Regions from separate parts of the Homo sapiens genome. Here region 1 is linked to region 2. Evidence: fine-mapped expression QTL. A gene starts in region 2. The other region holds a variant in brackets. All regions are shown on one strand. Distances are between the middles of the regions. Region 1 holds the start of PNMA8A (PNMA family member 8A). Region 2 holds the start of CCDC8 (coiled-coil domain containing 8 subunit of 3M complex).

What was found. PIP is the estimated chance that this variant, and not a neighbour inherited with it, causes the effect.
Region 1: its variant is the best candidate, but not a certain one, in a credible set for the expression of CCDC8 in fibroblasts (GTEx, PIP 0.59).

The regions. Positions count from the first base shown.
Region 1 is chr19:46,465,163-46,476,759 of GRCh38, forward strand. It overlaps PNMA8A (PNMA family member 8A), which reads right to left and starts at 6,401. Exons shown (of 3, transcript NM_018215.4): 1 at 6,175-6,401; 2 at 4,571-5,952; 3 at 1,341-3,415. The coding sequence starts at 5,873. The coding sequence ends at 3,399. The variant C/T (reference allele first, on the strand shown) is at 5,888.
Region 2 is chr19:46,410,429-46,421,577 of GRCh38, forward strand. It overlaps CCDC8 (coiled-coil domain containing 8 subunit of 3M complex), which reads right to left and starts at 3,136. Exons shown (of 1, transcript NM_032040.5): 1 at 1-3,136. The coding sequence starts at 2,382. The coding sequence ends at 766. RefSeq lists enhancers at 1,510-2,343, 4,010-4,843, 4,844-5,676 and a silencer at 6,103-6,192.

The DNA of each region.
Region 1 (11,597 bases), 55 kb after region 2:
CTGGGTGTAACCAGTAGGAGTGACTATTATTGTGGGAGGTACTTAAACATCTTGGTCAAATAGGGCTTTTCCCATTGTGGGGGTGTGGGGGCACCCAATAAATAGAGCTTCATCCAGATGCTTCTATGAGTACACGGCAGTTCCTAACGAGCTCCGCGTCCTCAAATCCCAGCTTCCCTTTTGGTCTCTTTCGCATCTTTCCTCATAATCTCCATTCACTTTCACAAAACCTCAACCTGGACCCCTAAGGACACTTCCGTTTCCCCAAGTCTGAATTATTCCACCTGAAGCTCTCCAACCTGTATTATTAATAGAATTCTTGGCTGGGCGTGGTGGCTCACGCCTGTCATCCCAGCACTTTGGGAGGCTGAGGTGGGCGGATCACGAGGTCAAGAGATCAGAGATCGAGGCCATCCTGGCCAACATGGTGAAACTCCATCTCTACTAAAAAAAATACAAAAATATTAGCTGGGCGTGGTGGCGCACCCCTGTAGTCCCAGCTACTTGGGAGGCTGAGGCAGGAGAATCGCTTGAACCCGGGAGGCAGAGGTTGCAGTGAGCTGAGATCATGATACTGCACTCCAGCCTAGGAGACAGAGCGAGACTCCGTCTCAAAAAAAAAAAAAAAAAATTCTCAGGAGAAACTGTTTAAGACGCAGATAACTATGTACAACCCCGAAGAGATCCTGAATCAGCAGGTAGAGCCACGAAATGGTACCTTGAACAGATTCCAAGTGACTGATGTAGTGGCCACCCTGGTTCAGGAGTTCCTGGGGAGGGGCAGGGGAGGGCCAGAAGAAAACTATATTTTTAGCTAAAAGACCTCAGCTTCTGGCTTGGCATGGTGGCTTACACCTGTAATCCCAACGCTTTGGGAGGCCGAGGTGGGCAGATCACTTGAGCCCAGGAGGTAGAGGCTGCAGTGGGCTGAGACTGTGCCACTGCACTCCCACCTGGGTGACAGAGCGAAACTCCATCTCAAAAAAAAAAAAAAAAAAAGACCTTGGCTTCTGTGTGAGGGAATAGGAAGGGAGGGAAAGGTTTTCATTTTCCAGCTGTTTATAAAAAAATAAACTGGTACTTTGAGGTAATTTGCGTCACCAGATACCTATTCTAGAAACCCCAAGATCTGTGGGACATCCTTCCACATCAGTGGAAAGCCATTCGCAAAGAGGACAAACGGCTTCTTCTCTCATGGATCATTAACAATTCTCAAAGCTTGAACCCGTATCTGATAACCAGTCACATCTGGCTGGGGGCACTGTTTGAGGAAAGGGGAACCCTTTCCTCAAATTTAATAGTCCATGCAATCCTCACCTACAAGAGACTTAACAGGACACTTAATTTGCTAAACTTTATTTTATACATACACGTTTACATTTACTAGTCATGGTGTCAACTTGTTAACACAACGAAGCCCTAATGGACCCGTTTTGAAATTAGAAGCTGGACAGTTACAGGCTTTGGTCTCTTCAAGAATCCAATTCACCCCTGGGTTTCGCTTGGCACACACCCCAGGAGAACGTCGATGCACACAGCTGTGTAGCTGCAAACGGAAACCACTCTCTTTTCTCTCGTATTTTTCAGTCAGACTCACTCAGGATTTTGAAATGAATCATCACGAGAAATTTGTTTTAAAGTTGAATCACTGAGAACATCTAACAACTGTTCACATTCTTTATCACAAAAACTGAAGTCGGAAAAGACGCCCTGAAAACTTGCAAGGGCTAATACTCTATGATAGAATATTACTACTGTTCACCATGTTAATACATTTACTTACTACCATACACCTGAACAGTCACGGCAGAACAAGAGCATGTGAATGACGAAAGGAAACTTGCTTTCAGGGTGTCAGATTATAGAACATGCACAGGAATTTCTTCCACTTCTAACCTCGCTCATCAGTCACATTTACAAGAAACTCAATTTTAAGCAAAGAGATGCCTGAAATAACTAAGACGTGTACAAAAACAAGTTAACCTATGAACACAAGGTAATATTCTGATAGTCTTCGATGTGACTTCCAACATATCTGAGTAGTCACTTTTCAGTTTTTTAAACACGTGAGAAAAATAGATTTGGATTACATCTTTGTGGACGGCTACGATACAGTTTGGAAACCATTATCTCAGGGACCCTGCTCTCTCCTCTACACATGCGCACGCAAACACACACACACACACACACAATGACACATGGTGGTCTGGTCTAATATAGTGTGTCTGAATTCAGAGGGCAGACATTAACAGCCAAGTTTTGTTTTTTTGAGAGAGAGTCTCACTCTGCTGCCCAGGCTGGAGTGCCGTGGCACAATCTCGGCTCATTGCAACCTCTGCCTCCTGGATTCAAGCAATTCATCTGCCTCAGCCTCCTGAGTAGCTGGGATTACAGGCGCGCGCCACCACGCCCAGCTAATTTTTGTAGAGATGGGGTTTCACCATGTTGGTCAAGCTGGTCTTAAACGCCTGACCTCGTGATCGACCTGCCTCAGCCTCCCAAAGTGCTGGGATTACAGGCGTGAGCCACCGTGCCCGGCCAACAGCCAAGTTTTAAAAGATTTTTTTCCCCTCTTACTATAATGTGAGTAGTGACCTTCTGCTGCAAAGATGGTGACAGTTTGGTGCAAAGATGGTGACAGTTGGGTAGATGGATGGAATTAGAGCTGGGGACCTAGGAATGCCTGCGTCCTTCCCTATAATCACCCCCCTTCCCCACAGGATTCCTGAGAGGGCTCATCCCAAATGGGAATCAAAGTGCCATTTTTACTAACAGACTCTAAAACTCAAAGACTTTGAGGTCTAGGCAGACATTCTTTTTCCCTAAAACTAACTCTTGGGACCTCCTGGCTAGATAACTGGAGGATGGAAGCTGGAGACTGAAGGAGCAATAAAACCAGGTTTGCAGCGAAGGTCCTGGCTTAACTTACCCCGCTGGTTACACGAGAGGAAGGCGGGAGGAAGAATATGGCAGGGCCACCCAGCTCTTCCAAATGCCAGGGCCTGCAGAGGTCGCTGACCATTCCGAGGAGGGAGCAAGGCGTGGGGGAGAAAAGCTGAACATGGATGAGTGTAACAGTGACCCTGCTCATGCATAAAGGGGAATGAATGTTCTAGAATTTTCCCAATCCTCTTACCAACTCTCCTGCCTCCGAAGAGAAGGTGAGTAGAGAAGGCGGTGAAACGGCAGGCCTGGTAGAGAAAAGGGCATAGAGATCCACCTCCCTTCCCCAACTCCCTCCCACCCAAGACCTCACCTATCGTTTACCTCAGGGCCAGATCTCTATCAACAGGGGCCCTAAGAGAGTCCAAAGTCTTATTCAGTGACAAGAGAGAACTTGGTTGACTTGGTACTTCTTCCTTGTTCTTTCAACTCCTCAGTATGGGTGGTCCCCCAGATCAAACCTTTCTGGATTCTGCAAATAAATGAGAGAACAGATCAAGAAGGGAAGCAGAGAGGTGTCATTAGGAAATGCATTACTTCCAAGAAATTTCTGGGTCCCTGAACATTTCTATTCCCCAGCCAGGTCTCTAGAAAACTTCACCCTTAAAGCCACATACCCTGCAAACACCATAACTCCAAAGTATTAATATTTTTTTTGGGGGGAGGGGGGAACAGGGTTTCACTCTATCGCCCAGGCTGGAGTGCAGCAGTGTGATCTTGGCTCCCTGCAACCTCCACCTCCCAGGTTCAGGGAGGGTAAGAGCCCAGACCGCCCTTCCAGGAGCCCCTGAAGGCCGATGCTGGAGACATCTGGTGGGCAGATGTCTGGAGGCCAATCCCAGGCCTTGGCCTCCCCAGTAGCTGGGATTACAGGCACAAACCACCATGCCCAGCTAATTTTTGTATTTTTAGTAGAGATGGGGTTTCACCATGTTGGCCAGGCTGGTCTCGAACTCCTGACCTCAGGTGATCTGTCTGCCTTGGCCTCCCAAATCATTAAATTCTTTTTTTTTTTTTTGGAGACAAGAGTCTCACTCTCGTCACCCAGGCTGGAGGGCAGTGGCACAATCTAGGCTCACTGCAACCTCCACCTCCCGGGTTCAAGAGATTCTCCTGCCTCAGCCTCCCGAGTAGCTGGGATTACAGGTATGTGGCACCACACCCGGCTAATTTTTTGTATTTTTAGTAGAGACGGGGTTTCACCATGTTGGCCAGGCTGGTCTTGAACTCCTGACCTCAGGCGATCTGCCCACCTTGGCTTCCCAAAGTGCTGGGATTACAGGCATGAGCCACCAAGCCTGGGCCCAAACCATTAAATTCTCATCAAGGAAGATGGGTCAGATGGAGTGGCAAATGACCACAGTGACACTCATTGTGGGTTTCCTCTGCCACCTCCTGCCCACCAGATGTCTCCAGCATCGGCCTTCAGGGGCTCCTGGAAGGGCGGTCTGGGCTCTTACCCTCCTCAACTGGTGTGTCATCCACCTCCTGCCATGCACCAGGGTCCTCCTCATCACCCGCTTGACCCACCACCTCCTCGGGCTCCTCTGCCCCACCTGCCACTCCTGCTCCTCCTGCCTCATCCACTTGCTGGCACGAGCCCAGTCACTTCTGCTATCATTCTCACCATTGGTGGCACGCCGAGGAGAGCCTTCTGGCTTGGCCTTCGGACCCCTAGAGGTTGAGGCTGTTGCCTCGGCAGGCTGCTGGCCCCGAGGGGCCTTCTGATCTGATGCCTCCCTTCTTGAGCCTGGCCCTTTCTTTGGCATCACCGGCTTCTTCCTGCCATCTTCTGAGTCAACCAAGACGTAGGAGACAGGGCCCAAGCTCACCTTCTTCTTCTTCCTCATGGGAGCGGGGTTCTTGGCAGACACCCAGGCCACGGCCTTCTTCTTTGGTGGGCTTTCATGGCCACCATCTTGGTCTGACTCAGAGGCGCCTCCTGGGCTCTCGGCTTCTGCCCGGGCATCCTGAGGTGGCTCTCTGGGACCCTTCCAGGCACATTTCGCCATGGGCTTCTTCAAAGCCAACTCCTCCTTATTCACACAGGGCTTTCTGCTGCCCTTGATCGGCTCTGAGATCGCCATGCTTTCAGCATCACCCACCTCAGGATCCTCCAAGTTAGCTGTGCTGTTGGAATTGATGCCTTTGGGTTTTTTCCAGGGCACTGCTTCCTGCCTGGAGTTCTTCTTCTGCTTCTTTCTCCTGGAGCGAGACTTAGCTCCAGCCCTGCGAACCAAAGGTTTGGTAGGCTCATGCTGGTCTTCCGTGGCATTCCAGTTGTTGGGGGTCTCTGCCTTTAAGGCAGAACCCACCTCTGCTGCAAGCCCCGGTTCTTTCTTCACCTTCCTCCCTGCTGCTAAAGCCCAGGCTGCCATCTCCTCGAATTCAGCGGCCTCCTGGGCCCTGGCTTCCTCCCGGCTGCGGATCTCGGCATCCATGCAGAAGATGATCTGCACCACTGCTCCCAGAAGCACCCCCAGAGCTTCTGCCCAGTTCTCTGGGGGCTGATGCTGGTTCTGGGACAGGGTGGGGTGGTTGAGCTGGAGCAGGCGGACCACATCCTCCCAGGTGCGCCCCTCGGCATCCAGGAATTCATTCAGATTTTTTAAAAACTCGGCATCCTGGGTAGGGTCTCTACAGACCACTCTCCAGACACCACCCCTTCCTGGGAATTCACGGGGGATGGTGCTCAGATTCACACCTTCACCAACCTCAATGAGGGCAGCTTTAACATTCTCTTCCCTCACAAAAATCTTGTTGAGCACGCGGTACGGGCCCAGTGGGGAGAGGACCCCATTCAAGGTCTCCTCAATTTCTGCCTGCCCACAGTCCTCTGGGATGCCTGTGACCAACAAGGACCTGTGGATGTCCACTTCCATTCCCCTGCACCAATCCTCCAGAAGGTTCATCGCCATGGTCTTGGACATTTAGCGGCTCTGAA[C/T]CTACTATGTGTAGTAAATAGTCTATCAGGTGGACGTGGGCTGCAGCGGTCTCCAAACAGTAATCCTGCAAGGTGACAAGGGAGCGAGGTCACGTTCCCAGGAAGATGACCAAGCTCACAGATCCTAGCTGCCCCCTCCGCGGCTGGCCTGCAGGAGGCCTGGCGCTTTCCCAACACCCTCCTCCCCAACCCAGGCCCCGGTGCTCACACGTGTCCCTGAATCTGCAGCAAAAGGCCCTAGGACCCTCCCCCGGGCCTGACGCTCCGCCTGCCCAGCCGGGACTTACTTGGCAGATCAGCCTCCGACCGCCCAGCCAGGCCAAGGAGACGCAGTGGAATGCAGCCGTTTCCCAGTCGCTGGCTCCGGCTACCCCGGCGCCGCTGCTAGAGGCAGAAAGGGCCAAGAAGGCGCCGTCCGCCCCCGCTCCGGCCCAGGCGGGTCACGGGGCGTCCAGACTCGATGCCGTTAGCGGCGAGAAGCCGAGGTTGGCGTCGCAGCGCGCGCCTGCGCACTGGCTCCCGCACCGCCGCTCGGGGGTCTTGGGCTGCGCAGGTGCCGACGTCTCCATGGCAACCGGGCGTGGGTTGCTAGGGCTGAGCCCGGCCGGCGCGCCGGCGCTGCAATTGGACCTAGGGAGCCGGGTGCAAGAGTGGCCTGTTCAGGTCGCAGAGCAAGCGGGTCTGGATACACTCCGGTGGCGCCTCCACGGAGGCCCTCTTTCAACCCAAGTGGGCCTCGCGAACGGGGGTTAGGTCGATGAGAAGCGCCAACACCTATGGCTGCACCCACTGACTGTATTATCCTCTGCCCCACCTGTTGGATTCACCCAACGCAACTCTTGGGAGACACTAGAAATCAAGAAAGGAGGAAAACGAGGCTTTAATCTTCTTGGGTTCCTCCAACAGCAGGTGCAGTTCCTGTTGGGCTTGTAGCCTTCTCTCTTACAAGCTGCTGGGTTCTTCCAGGAATTTCCAGAAACTTCTAGAAATTTCTTAGTCTCCTCCCCGACCCCTTCTAGCATGAGGATAATGCCTCGCCTTTTCTTGTTTCCTCAACGTGATTCAGGGCAGGTTCTTGGCATCCTCCAGGCAGGGGACAATGTTACAGCTCAGTGACTGCCCCTACAGAGAAGTGTTAGTCCAAACTGCAACCATTTTGTAAGCCCTGACTATTTTGCAGATCTTGGTCAAAGTGAAATATTCCACGGGGGTTCGGGCCAATGAGAAACATCCTGCCTAATCACCTGACCACAAGGCGGACAAAGGCCCAGCTAAAGAAACATTATCATACCCTATCGTGCAAAGGCCCAACTGAAGAAACATCCCTATCATATTCTGCTGGGAGAAAGTGCAGAGAACACCACATTCCACCAGAACAAGGGCCAGAACCGCCTCATCATGGAACCATCTTATCAACATCCTGCTGGGCAGCAAACCATACTGCTCAGACCCCTCCCACCCATAACTATAAGTACCCCCAGCCTATAAGCAGCAGTGGGCTCTGGCATTAGGCTGGTTACCCACTTCCACAGGTGTCTGCAGTATACCTGAGTTGCTGTTGAGCCGCCTTCTGTCTGTGTGTCTTTAACCCTCACCTTCCCTCCAAAACCTAACAAGGAGGGCTACCCTCTAGGCAGTGTGCTGAGAATAGCACCTCGGGGCAAGGCTGCAGTCACATTTATACCCACTTTTAATGACGTGCTAATTAAGGGGTGGGTTTTCAGAATTAGCAAATTGGCAGTAACTTATGGGTGTTGCCATGGCAATGGTAAACTGTCATGGTGCTGGCAGGCATGTCTTATGGAGAGAGGCTTTCGGTGCCTTTTCCAGGTTTTGGCCAGTCTTCAATGTGATCCTCAGTGGAGTCCCCTGGGCCTCCTACCTCAACCTTGCTGCCCATGAGCAAGAACTTTGTTAATAGTTTATTAATGCCCAGTGCTGTGGCTCACGCATGTAATCCCAACACTTTGGGAGGCTGAGGAGGGCGGATCACTTGAGCTGGGGAGTTCGAGACCATCCTGGGCAACATGGCAAAACCCCGTCCCTACCAAAAACGCAAAAAATTAGCCAGGTGTGATAGGGGTCACCTGTGGTCTCAGCTATTCGGGAGGCTGAGGTGGGAGGATTGCTTGAACCCAGGAGACCCTGTCTCAAAAAAAATAAACTAATTAATTAAGCACTCCTATGAGACTCGGTTGGACTGGCCATCTGTTTTTTTTTTTTTTTTTTTGCCAGTCCCTCACTGATCCACCTACCAATGTCCCTTCCTGGCTGTGTGATCTTAGAGAAATAATTTGACCCCGCTGAGCTTATTTCTTTTCTCTGTAATAGGAATTCTAATAAAAAATCTTCCTGATTTGGAAGTTTTGAAGATTCGGGGGGATCTCATCTGAAAGATGCATGGAAGTACAATTTGGGCCTTGGTATTCAACCAAAATCTGTTCTTTGGGTTCATTTTTGAAACTGACATTTGCAAGGCCAAATAGCCAAATGTTCATTTCACTGTCATCTCTGGCATTCCTAAATTTGGGCATCATCAATACTTGTGTGATTGCCCAAGTTTCCATCATATTTTGTGCTAAAAAGTTGTGTCATTCAAATCGTTAACCTCTGATTATTCACATAATTCACACCGAATATTCCAATAAACACTCTAGCTATGATTAAAGTCTTTAAATCTCATGTGCTTTATATGTTGAAATTCTACATATCAGTGGAAGAATGAGTGTATATTTTTAGGCAGTGGTTTAAAAACATAGCCATAAATTCTCCGACACTTCTATTGAGAAGTGACGATCTGTGTCCCCTCCTCGTGAATCTGAGCAGACTTGTGACTACTTTAACCAATGGAGTTTAGTGGAAAGGAAGCTATGTGGCTTCTCAGACTATGTTACAGAAGGGCACGCAGCTTCTTCCTCATTCACTGGAACACTTTTTTTTTTTCTTTTTTGAGACAGAGTCTCGCTCTGTCGCCCAGGCTGGAGTGCAGTGGCGCAATCTCGGCTCACTGCAAGCCCCACCTCCCGGGTTCACAGCATTCCAGGTTGGGAAGAACAATGAACAATTTTTCTGAGAGATGGCTAATCACAATCCCCCATGGGCACAATGACCTCTTTCTGCATGTAGCCCCCTCCAGCATACCCCTATGAAACTTCCAGTCCCTGCCTTTTTGCAGACAGCCCCCTTCTCTGCTGTGCTGCCCATTGCAACCGTGCAATGTATTTTCATATCTTCTCTAATAAATCTGCCTTTCTTTACCTACAACTGTCTTGGTAAATACCTTTACTGCCCACAACACCCGCCGCACCTAGTCGTACCCGTGACAGTTGGGGGTGACTCAAATGACTGAGAGCTAGAATCATCTGGGAGTTTCTTCACTCACATGTCTGGTGCCTGGGCTGAAATCCTTTGAAAGCTGGGCTCAGCTGGGAAATGTTGATGGAAGCACTGATGTGGCTTGGGCTTCCTCACAGCATGAAAACCAGAGGGTAGATCGTTGAACTTCTTATTTGGAAGCTCAAGGATGCAAGAACAAGAGTGTTCCTGTGAGGCTGGGCGCGGTGGCTCACGTCTGTAATCCCACCCTTTGGGAGGTTGAGGCGGGTGGATCTGGACGTCAGGAGATCGAGACCATCCTGGCTAACATGGTGAAACCCCGTCTCTACTAAAAATCCAAAAAAATTAGCCGGGCCTGGTGGCAAGCTCCTGTAATCGCAGCTACTCGGGAGGCTGAGGCAGGAGAATGGCCTGGCCAACATGGTGAGCCGAGGCTGCACCATGGCATTCCAGCCTGGGGGACAAGAGCGAGACTTCGTCTCAAAAAAAGAAAGAGAGGCCGGCGCGGGCTCACGCCTGTAATCCCAGCACTTTGGGAGGCCAAGGCGGGCGGATCGTGGGTCAGGAGATCGAGACCACCCTGGCTAACATGGTGAAACCCTGTCTCTACTAAAAATACAACAACAACAACAAAAATTAGCCGGGCGTGGTGGCGGGCGCCTGTAGTCCCAGCTACTCAGGAGGCTGAGGCAGGAGAATGGCGTGAACTCGGGAGGCAGAGCTTGCAGTGAGCCGAGATCACGCCACTGCACTCTAGCCTGGGCGACAGAGCAAGACTCCGTCTCAAAAAAAAAAAAAAAAAAAAAAGTTACTCTAGAGAAGTATTTGGGACCCCCATGGGAATGAGATGCGTCTACCACCGTAACAGGAGGGACCTCTGCATCCAGGACATCTGGGTCCAGGAACGCTAGTAGGAGTGAAGGTAGAAAAATGAAGACGGGCTGGGCACGATGGCTCACGCCTGTAATCCCAGCACTGTGGGAGGCCAAGGCAGGCAGCTCACCTGAGATCAGGGGTTCAAGACCAGCCTGACCAACATGGAGAAACCCTGTGTCTACTACTAATACAAAAATTAGCCGGGCATAGTGGTGCATGCCTGTAATCCCAGGTACTTGGGAGGCTAAGGCAGGAGAATCGCTTGAACCCAGGAGGCGGAGGTTGCGGTGAGCTGAGATTGTGCCATTGCACTCCAGCCTGGGCAACAAGAGTGAAACTCCGTCTCACAAACAAAAAAAAAAAGTAAATTATTTTTTGAAAAATAAATATAGGTTAAAATAGTGAATTTTATGTTATGTGTATTTTACTACAAAAGTGAACAAATAATGCGTTACAGAATGGAGAGATGGGGGGCAAGGGAGGGAGAGAGATGCCTTCAGCTTTGCCTCAAAAGCCAGGTTTCAGCTTTCTGCAGAGCCAATATTCCTAACAGTCCTGGCTGCCCCTTCAGGAATGCCACCCAACCCCAGTGCATGAGCACAGAATCAAAGTTCTGGAACTTTCTCTTCAAAGAGAAAACAAAACATCTCAGTGTGTTTGAAAATTCTGCTAAGGATTTGTCAGACCAAAAAAAAATAATAATAAAAAAATAAAAGAAGAAGAAGAAAATCGTCAATCTAGACAGGATAAAAAGTAAATTTATACCAGCAGTGGATTGTAAAACATCATAACTAAAATGAAATGGAATGGATGTTTGCTGAATCTCAGAGGCTTTTGCTATGTTTGCCAAGTAGTTTTACAAATGCGGGAGCTTGTTTGTGATCCAGGCTGCAGACAAAGTTGCTGCAGTGGAAACTGAGTCACACAGTGACTCAGTTAGAATTAGACACTGTCTGTTTTTTCTTCTCTCTTTTTCAGTTATTTATTTTGGCATGCAAGGGAATGACAGACACTGAGTTTTGATAAATACTGGATTTTTAAATGCAATAATCCTCCAAGTGACTATCTCTGGGGAGAAGAAGAGGGCAAGTCATATGGGAGGTAGGACACAGCCTATTTAAACAATAATTTTGTTTAAAGATGTGTAAATAAATTTAGCATAGTATTAAGATTTAATAAAGAATGGCAAGGGATACATAAGGGTTAATTATATAAATCTCTTTTTTTTTTTTTTTCTGAGACAGAGTCTTACTCTGTCCCCCAGGCTGGAGTGCAGTGGCGCACTCAGCCTCCACCTGCAGGGTTCAAACGATTCTCCTACCTTAGCCTCCTGAGTAGCCGTGATTACAGGCACGTGCCACCATGCTGAGCTAATTTTTGTATTTTTAGTAGAGAAGGGGTTTCCCCATGTTGCCCAGGCTGGTCTCAAACTGCTGACCTCAAGTGATCCGCCTGCCTCGGCCTCCCAAAGTGCTGGGATTACAGACATGAGCTGCTG
Region 2 (11,149 bases):
TGTGCAAACCAAGGGCCCTGTCCCCTCCAAACCAGCAGAGCCCGGGGCATGAGGATGGCAAGCGAAGTGACAACATAAACACAGGTGTCTCCATCATCAAGGATGGGAGTGGAACGGACAGCAAGGGCCAGGTCACCCCCAGAGCATTCGTCAGTTGTCAAGTCCAAAGCTAAGAAATCAGTTCATAAATGTTTTTTGATTTGCATGTTGGCTCAACTCTTTTTAAGTCCAAGGAGGCAGTCCACATTAAGTGTGCAGGCAAAAAAGAGATGGAAAAAGGAGTCAGTTTCTCCCCTGCCCTCCCTCTCTCCCTTTATCAAGCTGAGCACCTTGAGTTGCATTTGAGGAAATGAAAACTATAGGTGACGCAACCCCATTGTGTCGAATTCTTTCTTTACATTTTTTGGGTTGCTACAAGGAATCAGTATTTTTTTTTTTTAATCAGATGGTGTGTGTGGTGGCTCACATCTGTAATCCCAGCATTTTGGGAGGCCGAGGCAGGAGGATCACTTGAGGCCAGAAGTTTGAGGCTGCAGTGAGTTATGATCATGCCACTGCACTCCAGCCTGGGCAACAGAGTGAGACCCTGTCTCTAAAAAATTTAAAAAAAAATCAAAGCATGAACAAAACTTTAACAAGAGAATAAAGAGGGTTGTTAGGTGGAGACGTGGCCAGCACTCCACCTCCACTTTGAAGTTCAGAGGCAGAGCATCTCTCCCTCCCACACTTGGAGGGAGGGCCCGTGGGCTGTCTCTAGCCCTCACCTCACAGCTGGTCTTCTTGCTCTCCCTGCTCAGCTTCTGCTCTGGCCTCGGCCCTCAGCACCCTGAGGTTCCTGGCCTCTCCTGCCCTGGGGACTCTCTTGGGCAGGGTTGGCAACCGGGGAGTGTGCCAGAAGGCTCTCCGGCGCTTGCAAAACCACGAAAAGCGTCCAGGGGTCTGGAACCTCACTGTCTTGACCTGTTTCCGGGCCCTGGCTCCTGGAGCTGTTCCTGTGGTCCCTTGGGCAGCTGAGACTTCAGCTTCCTGGATACCTGGGGCCCCTGCCCTCTGATTATGTGCAGCCTCTGCCCTCTGGCCAGCCCGGGCCTGTGCCCTCTGATTATCTGCACCCTGGACAGCTGGGGCCCTTTCCCTCTGGTCATGTACGGCCTCTTCCCTTTGATTATCTGTAACCTCTGACCCCTGGTCAGCTGGGGCCTCCGCCCTCTGATTATCTGCAGCCTCTTCCCTGTGGTTATCTGTGCCCTGTGACCTCTGGTCAGCTGGGGCCTCTGCCCTCTGATTATCTGCAGCCTCTTCCCTCTGGTTATCTGCAGCCTCTGCCCCCTCCTCAGCTGGGGCCCCTGCCCTCTGATTATCTGCAGCCTCTTCCCTCTGATTATCTGCAGCCTCTGCCCCCTGGTCAGCTGGGGCCCCTGCCCTCTGATTACCTGCAGCCCCTTCCCGCTGGTCAGCTATGGCCTCTTCCCTTTGACTATCTGCAGCCTCTCCCCCCTGATCAGCCTCGATGTCTGCCCCCTGACCTGTGGGTGCTGTCTGCTCCTTCCTGCGGCGCCGAAAGGAGGCCCAGTTGATCTTGGGCCTCCATCGCCTAGGGGAAGCCTGGGGCACACAAACATCTCCCGCGTTTCCCAAGCGATCCCCCGGGCTGGTGCCCTCTGGCGCCGATGATACCCCTGCGCTCTCCACTGCGGTGGAGGCCAGCCGGGCCTCGCCCACCCCGGGGCCCGCCCTCGGCGCCCAACCCTTCACCCTCCGCTTCAGCTTCCCCCAGGACACCTGGCTGACATACTCCCGCCACCTGTCCGCTTTGGACAGCTGAGGCCCCAGGTTGTCCTCAAACATGGGCACTGGCAGGTTGACGCGGCGGCGGGCAGGCGGCGCGCTGGGCTGCTTCTCCTGTCGCCGGAGGAAGGCCTCGACCAGTTCCTCATCATCCTCACTCTCCAGGTCGCTTCCCAGGAACTTGCTGCCCAGGTAGCTGACGGGCATTTTGCGCACCTTCTTGCCCCGCCGCGGGCCCTGGCGGCTCTTGTCTCTGGAGGTCTCGAAGTCGCTGAACTCGCTGTCGCTGGCGTTGCTGCTGTCGTACGTGCCCACGACCAGCCGGGGCGGAGGAGTCACCATCTGCTGCACTCTCCTCCTCACTCGGGGCTCCTTGGGCTTTTTGGGGGGCTGGGGCGGGTGCGGGGTGCTCTTCTCCATGATGCGGGCCACGTCCTCCAGGGTGCGGCCCTCTTCTTCCAGGAACTGGGTCAGCCGCTCCCGAAATTCTGCTTCCTTGGTGGCGGGCTTAGAGATGACTCTCCAGACGCCCCCAGCCAGCCTGACCTCCCGGGGGATGAGCAAATAGTCGACGTCCTCCCCGATCTGCAGCATCCCCACCGTGGAGTCCTCCTCCTTGCGGAACACCTTGCCGATCTTCTTAAATGTCCCCACGGGCTTTAGGGCTTCCACGAGGACGTCCAAATCCACATCTTTGCAGACATCGGGGACGCTCCAAAGAATGAGGCAGTCGGGGGACGGCAGGAAGCCCCAGGGGAACCAGCCCCCCACGTGGCTTTTCTCGAGAGTCTTTAAGATCTCCAGGGTGATATCTGGGGTGAGGGGGCAATGAGCCCCAACAAACTACTGTAGCCCTTAGTCTTGAGGGAGGGACTGGATGGGGGGAGTTCCAGCAACGCTGACCGGAGAGTCTCACCTCCCTAGCCAGGGACGAGCCAAACGCCTCCAATCTCTTCGCCTGCAACAAGTACAGTCTTGACCAAGTCCGGCTCCCCCACCAAGGACTTGGGGGAATCAATTTCCAGGATGCCTACGTGAGCCGGGGGCGAGGTCAGTCCCAAGGCTCAAGGCCCACTCCAAGCTGGAAACGTGGTGTCCCAGCTCCAAGTTGGGGCGCGCGGGCTGCCAGCGACTCTTCCTGCCCCAGGCCCCAGGGACGCGGCTGGAACTTGGGACAGGACTTCGCAGACAAAGACGGTCCAGTCGAAGCTATTCAATATGGCCGAGGCGCTGGGAGGCCCCAGCCCGGGCCTCCAGTAGGGTCCCCCGCCCCCAGGCAGGCCGCCACCCAGCTCCAGGCTGACCTTGACGCGCCGCAGCCTGCCAGCCCGCGCGCTTAGAGCTCTGCACCGTGGAGCGCGCGGGCAGGAAGTTCCTCCTCGCCCTCCGCCAGAATGAGGCCCACCTTCCCCCGTCTCATCTTACACTCCCAGACTCTGGAAGACTGACAGGGGGGCTGTCCACTCCCTTCGGGGCGGCCTCCTTCCCCTCCCCCACAGGGGTGTGGCCGCGCCCCGGGCCTAGCTGGGCCCATTGCTTCCCAGCGAAGCGGCAGTGGCCCACGTCAGCACCTTTCCTGAAAGGCAGCGGTTCCCAAACCTGCCATCCGAAATGTGCAAGTTTCCAGCCAAGTCCGGGAGGTGGGTGTGCTAGTGGATTCTACTTTTTGAGAGCCACTGGCACCACAGATTAGCATTTTAAATTCACGCGACTATCGGTACCCGTACACCTATATGCGTGGGTAGAGAAATGGGTACCTGACTGCAACAGTCCCACTGTGGCGCTTGGCAGGTCAGGGCTCAATACATATTTTTGAGGGGATGAATAAACCCAAATGTTCATGGCCAGGCGCGGTGGCTCATGCCTGTAATGCCAGCACTTTGGGAGGCCCAGGTGGGTGGAACACTTGAGGCCAGGAGTTCGAGACCAGCCTGCCCAACATGGTGAAACCCTCGTCTCTACCCCGGGTGTGGTGGTGCGCGTGCGTAGTCCCAAGCTACGCGAGAGGCTGAGGCAGGAGAATGGCGTGAACCTGGGAGGTGGAGGTTGCAGAGATCGCGCCACTGCACTCCGGCCTGCGCAACAGAGGGAGACTGTCTCAAAAAAACAAAAGTGCAAAAAAACCCCTACAAATAAACAACAACAAAAAACCCTAAAAGTTCACGAGTAGAGACTGCCTCTATTTTATGGTAGTATCTTACAGTGAAATATTTTGCAACTTCGAAAAAAGAATGAGATGGCTAAGGATAGGCACGGTTTATGAGGCGCTTCCTATGTAGTAGGCACCATTCCCAGTGCTTTCTATGAATGAACTCAGGAAATCCTTGCTATAACAGGAGACTGGTAGCATGAGTACAATTCCCATTAGACAGCTGAGGAAACTGAGGCCCAAGGACATAAAACCACACTCTCAAGGTCACAGCCATGGGGAGTGGTTGAGTTTGGATTTGAATCCAGAATAGTCTGCCTTTTGTGTCGACCAAAGAGTCAAGATGGCCAGGCGCGGTGGCTCACGCCTGTAATCCCAGCCCTTTGGGAGGCTGAGGCGGGCAGATCACGAGGTCAGGAGATCAAGACAAGACCATCCTGGCTAACGCGGTGAAACCCTGTCTCTACTAAAAATGCAAAAAAATTAGCCGCGCGTGGTGGTACGTGCCTGTAGTCCCAGCTACTCGGGAGGCTGAGGCAGAAGAATCTCTTGAACCCGGGAGGCGGAGGTTGCAGTGAGCCGCGATCGCACCACTGCACTCCAGCCTGGACGACAGAGCAAGACTCCGTCTCAAAAAAAAAAAAAGAAAGAAAGAAAGAAAAAAAAGAATCAAGATGTGAACCAATGCTAGTCGCATTCGGCCGGGAGCTCGGTTCTTGAGACGCGAGTCTACCGAAGCTCCCGCCAGTTGAGAGGCGAGTCTGCCGAAGCTCCCGGCCGAAAAAGCCAAATCCTTCCTTAACCCAGTGTCTGAGGGGTTTTGTCCGTGGCTCCTCCTGCTACAGGACATGCGACTAGCATTGGTCCACATCTTTGGAACCAGGCATCCAGAGACATGTTGAATAGGCCTCGTTGTTAGGAACCCTCAGAGGTACATGGTAAGGCCAGTGCCATCAATCATCTTTTTACAGACGGTGAAACTGAGGCTGGTCTGAAGTTGCACAGCTCTGAGTGGTGGATCTAATATAATATTAGAACCAGATCTTGGGCACTAGCATTTAAAACACTAGCTGACGCTAAAGACACAGCTAATCCCCTTCTCCTAAATGTGTTGCACCATTTAACCACTTAGCAGCCACAATACTTGCAGCCACTCTTGCCTGGATGTGTACAAAGCCCCCTCACTGGGCTTCCCGCCTCCCCATCACTGCTTGCAATCCAGGCCCCATCCAGAAGCTGGGGGCATCTTTTAAAAACTTAGGTCCGATCTGTCTCTACTCTTTTGAAAATTCTCCATCTCAGGCTGGGCGCCGTGGCTCACGCCTTTAATCCAGCACTTTGGGAGGCTGAGGCGGGCGGATCACCTGAGGTCCGGAGTTTGAGACCAGCCTGGTCAACATGGCAAAACCCCATCTCTACTAAAAAATACAAAAATTGCCGGGCGCGGTGGCTCACGCTTGTAATCCCAGCATTTTGGGAGGCTGAAGCGGGTGGATCACCTGAGGTCAGAAGTTTGAGACCAGCCTGGCCAACATGGTGAAACCCCGCCTCTACTAAAACTACAAAACTAGCCTGTCTTGGTGGCGCATGCCTGTAATCCCAGCTACTCCGGAGGCTCAGGCAGGAGAATCGTTTGAATCCGGGATTCAGAGGTTGCAGTGAGCTGAGACCGTGCCATTGCACTCCAGCCTGGGCAACAAGAGCGAAACTCCGTCTCAAAAACAAACAAACAAAAAAAAGAAACGAACAAAAATATAAGAATTAGCCGGGCATGGTGACACATGCCTGTAATCCCAGCTACTGGGGAGGCTGAGGCAGAAGAATCGCTTGAACTGGGAGGCGGAGGTTGCAGTGAGCCAAGATCGCGCCACTGCCCTCCACCTTGGGCGACAGAGCGAGACTCCGTCTCAAATAAATAAATAAATGTGATCTTATTTAACTCATAAAGGAACCAGGCAAATTTTTAAAGAGGGAACGGAGGAAAAAGAGACGGGCCAGAGGGAAAGAAAAGATGTGGGGGCTTAGGGGACGTTAAGGTCTCAGCGAGCGGCCTGTTCACAATTACCGGCTTATTCAGGTTGTTTTTCTCTTGCAGAGCCAGGTCGTTGGGCTTCGCTGGATTTTTCTCCTCTTTCTCCCTGGCTCAGTCCCAGCCGCCGCGCTCAGCCCCCGGGCCTCCCGCGGCCCCGCCCCTCGCCTCCCCCTTCGCACAGTTTGTGGCCTCCGCAGTCCGGCGGTCTCCATGGCAACCACGGGACGCGCTCCTCCGCGCGGATCAAAACTAAGCGGGTGGGGCGGAGGCGGAGGCGAGGCTGCAGGGAGATGGTGGGGGTGGGGGCGCCACGGAGGACGAGGGCAGGAGCTCCTCTTTTCTGCCCCTGGTGCCTCCCTTAGGCCTCATCCCCAAAGCCAGCTTCCCTGAAAAGCTGTTTGTAGAAACCAAAAAATGAAAAATCCTAAGGACACCTAGGTTTCAGGAATGCTGATTAAAGAATCGCAAGTCTGAGGGCTCATGACAGTGCCTTCCAAGTGGTGACCTCGCAGATGAGACGTTTGGGTTTTGTAGTCATAAAAGGGCTTTCGTTTTGTTTGTTTGTTTTGTTTTTTGTTTGTTTTTCTTTTTTTATTTGGTGGGGGAGCAGGGAGCGGCGCAAGGAGGATAATCTAAGAAATGAAAATCCCAAATGTTCCATATTTTTGCAAAAATCGTCAACCTCCGGCCGGGGGCGGTGACTCATGCCTGTAATCCCAGCACTTTGGGAAGCCAAGGCAGGAGGATCGCTTGAGCCCAGGAATTGGAGACCAGCCTGGGCAACATAGCGAGACTCCGGTCTCCACAAAAAATTTAAAAATTAGCCGAATATTATGGTGTGCGCCTGTGGTCTGAGCTACTCGGGAGACTGAGGTGGGCCTATCGCTTGAGCCCGGGAGGTCAGGGCTGCAGGAAGCGGAGATCGCCCATCTGCACGCCAGCCTGGGCAACAGAGCGAGACTCCATCTCAAAAAAAAAAAAAATTGCCAGCCCCTGAACGGTTCAGCTGTGGGTGTTTTTAATTGCACAGATCTCTGGCAGGTGAGACCCTTCTCCAGCCATCACAGAATAAAATAATAAAAACGAGAACTGTAGCCTCACTTTTGCATTTGTTTAAAATAAATGGAAAGTTGGAAAAGAATGGGGAAGAGAAACAAAACACGGCTGAAATCCCTCTACCCAGCTACATTTTGTTGCCATTTAAAAAAAAAATGGGACACGCGGGCCAGGGGCAGTGGCTCAAGCTTGTAATCCAAGCAATTTGGGAGGCCTACGCGGGCGATCGCCTGAAGTCAGGAGTTCGAGACCAGCCTGGCCAATATGATGAAACCCCACCGTCTCTACTAAAAGTACAAAAATTAGCTGGGCACGATGGCAGGCGCCCGTAATCTCAGCTACTAGGGAGGCTGAGGCAGGAGAATCGCTTGAACCTGGGAGGCACAGGTTGCAGTGAGCTGAGGTGGTGCCACTGTACTCCAGCTTGGGCAACAGAGTAACACCCTGTCTCAAAAAAGGATACACGGTCAGAAAAAGCAAAAGTTACAGAAAGGTAAATTTTTTTCAAAAAAGGATTCTTCTCCCCAAACCCCACCTTCCAGCCTCTCCCCAAAAAGTAACCAGTTAAATATCTCTGTATTTTTCCAGAGAAAAAATGCTTGCATTAGTGTATGTGTTAATTTTATTTTATTTTATTAATTTATTTTTTTTTTTTTGAGACGGAGTTTTGCTCTTATTGCCCAGGCTAGAGTGCAATGGCGCGATCTCCGACTCACCACAACCTCCACCTCCCGCGTTCAAGCAATTCTCCCGCCTCAGCCTCCAGAGCAGCTGGGATTACAGGCCAACCCACCCAGCTAATTTTGTATTTTTAGTAGAGACGGGATGTCTCCATGTTGATCAGGGTGGTCTCGATCTCGAACCTCAGGTGATCCACCCACCTTGGCCTCCCAAAGTGCTGGGATTACAGGCGTGAGCCACTTCACCTGGCTTTTTTTTTTATGTTAATTTTAGAATTTATCTCACAGAGATTTTTTTCCCCCATCATCCTAAATTATTTTCATCACAGCACTTACCACTTTCTGTTTTTGTTTTTTTTTTTCTTTGAGACAGGGTCTCACTCTGTCACCCAGGCTGAAGTGCAGTGGCATGATCATGGCTCACTGTAACCTCGAAATCCTGGGCTCAAGCAATCCTCCCACCTCAGCCTTCTGAGTGTCTGGGGCTACAGGTGTGTGCCACCATGCCTGGCTATTTTTAAAAATTTTTTGTAGAGAGGTATTCTCATTATGTTGCCCAGACCGGTCTTGAACTCCTGGCCTCAACTGATGCTCCTGCCTCTGGGTCTCAAAGTGCTGGGATTACAGGCGAGAGGCACCACGCTGGGCCTATTTGTATGTACTTATTTATTGTTTCACCCTATTAGAATACTATCCCCATGAGGTCTGGGATATGAGTCTGGTTTGTTCACTGCTGAAGTCTCAGCATCTAGAACACTTCAGGTAGGAGCTACAAATATTTATTAACTGAATGAATGCTGAGAATTGCACTAGATTTATTACTATAAAATGTGTTTTCACTTAATGTCCTTCTGTATCAGTGCTTGCCAGTCTGTTTTTGTTTGTCACGACAGCTTCCATCTTTATTCCTTCAAGCCAGGAACGTGATACTGATAATAATTCATTTTTACTGAGCACCTACTTTATCCTTGGCCCTGTGCATTTTCTCATTCAGTCCTTAGAACCCTTCCTTAAGCAAATGTTATTCCCATTTTTCAGATTAAAAAAAAAAACTGAGTCCAAGGAAAGTCACACAGCTAGGTAGTGGCAGAGCCAAGCTTTGAATCACTCAGGTTTATTAGATTCCAATCTCCACACACTTTTTGTTTGTTTGTTTGTTGTTTGTTTGTTTGTTTTGAGACAGGGTCTTGCTCTGTCGCCCAGTGATACGATTTCTGCTCACTTCAGCCTCGACCTCCTGGGCTCAAGCTATCCTCCCATCTCAGCTTCCCAAGTAGCTGGGACTACAGGCCCATGTCACCATGCCCAGCTAATTTTTTGTAAAGTTGGAGTTTCGCCATATTTTCCAGGCTAATCTCGAACTCCTGGGCTCAAGTGATCCTCCTACCTCAGCCTTCCAAAGTGCTGGCATTACAGATGGAAGCCACCATGCCTGGCCCCAATCTCCACACTCAGTGGGGTGGATCGCTTGAGCCCAGGAGTTCAAGACCAGCCTGGGCAACATAGCAAAACCCCATCTCTACAAAAATAGTACAAAAAATTAGCTGGACGTGGTGGTGCAAGCCTGTAGTCCCATCTACTCGGGAGGCTGAGGTGGGAGGAGCATCTGAGCATAGGATGTCCAGGCTGCAGTGAGCCATTATCGCACCACTACACCCCAGCCTGGGTGACAGAGTGAGACGCTGTCTCAAAAAAGTTTAGAAAAAAGAGGCCAAGGGCTGGGCACAGTGGCTCGCGCCTGTAATCCCAGCACTTTGAGAGGCCGAGGCGGGCAGATCACAAGGTCAGGAGATCGAGACCATCCTGGCTAACACAGTGAAACCCCATCTCTACCAAAAATACAAAAAATTAGCCGGCCGCGGTGACAGGTGCCTGTAGTCCCAGCTACTCGGGAGGCTGAGGCAGGAGAATGGCGTGAACCCGGGAGGCGGAGGTTGCAGTGAGCCGAGATCGCACCAAGGCACTCCAGCCTGGGAGACAGAGTGAGACTCTGTTTCAAAAAAAAAAAGAAAAGAAAAGAAAGAAAGAAAAAGAAAAAGGAGGCCAAGGAAGATAACACAGAGGCAAAGGCGTACAGAGTGGAGGAGGCGATGTGGATGTAACCCTGTAGGCAGAGGCTGGAGAGATGCAGTCAGCAGCCAAGGAACTCCTGGAGCCACCGGAAGCTTGAAGAGGCAAGCAAGTTCCTCCGCCTGGAGCCTCTGGAAGGAGCTCAGCCTTGCCAACAGCTTGATTTTGGATTTCTGTCCTCCAGAACCATGAGAGAATACATTTGTGATGTTTTAAGCCATCTAGTATATGGTAATGTGTCACAACAGCCACAGGAAACGAATACAGAGCCCGTTGTGTGGCCACGAATTCCCCTGAGTCCAGTGAGGGCAATTCCAAATTAAAACATGCTAATTTTATTCTGTGACCTTGTCTCTCAGGAATAATTATCCCTGAAGCGAAAGAATTCTTGTACAGTGTCCTGCGCCCTAGGAATTACATATGGGTGACGGGCACCTTGGAAGTGGTGGGGTTTTTGGTTTTTTTTTTTTTTAGACTGAGTCTCGCTGTGTTGCCCAGGCTAGAGTGCAGTGGCCCCATCTTGGCTCACTACAACTTCCACCTCCCGGGTTCAAGCAATTCTGCCTCAGCCTCTGGAGTACGTGGGATTATAGGCATGCGCTACCATGCCCAGTTAATTTTTGTATTTTTAGTAGAGACGGGCTTTCACCATGTTGGCCAGGCTGGTCTCAAACTCCTGACCTCAAGTGATCCACCCACTGTGGCCTCCCAAAGTGCTGGGAATACAGGCGTGAGCCACTGTGCCCAACCACTGCTCTGATTTCTGTCCCTATAGTGTTTTTTTAGTTTTATGTAAAAGGAAGTATATAGTGTGTGTCCTTTTTGGTCTGACTTCTTTGACTCCGCATAACGCTTCTGAGGTTCACCGATGTTGCTGTACGCATCTGAGGTTCATTCCTTTTTTTTTTTTTTTTTTTTGAGACGGAGTCTTACTCTGTCACCAAACTGTGACAGGAGGAGTGCTGTGGCACAATCTTGGCTCACCACAACCTCCGCCTCCCCGGTTCAAGCAATTCTTCTGCCTCAGCCTCCCGAGTAGCTGGGACTACAGGCACCCGCCACCACGCCCAGCTAGTTTTTGTCTTTTTAGTAGAGACAGGGTTTCACCATGTTGGCCAGGATGGTCTCGATCTCTTGACCTCATGATCTGCCCGCCTCAGCCTCCCAAGGTGCTGGGAGGGCGACCGCGCCCGGCCAGTACATTCTTTTTTGTTGCTAGGTCATATTCTGTTGCATGAATACATTGCAGTTTGTTTATTCATTCACCTGTCGTCGGCCATCGAGTTGTTTCTAGTTTTTGGTTCTTAGAAATAAAGCTGCTGCCGGGCGCCGTGGCTCACGCCTGTAATCCCAGCACTTTGGGAGGCCGAGACA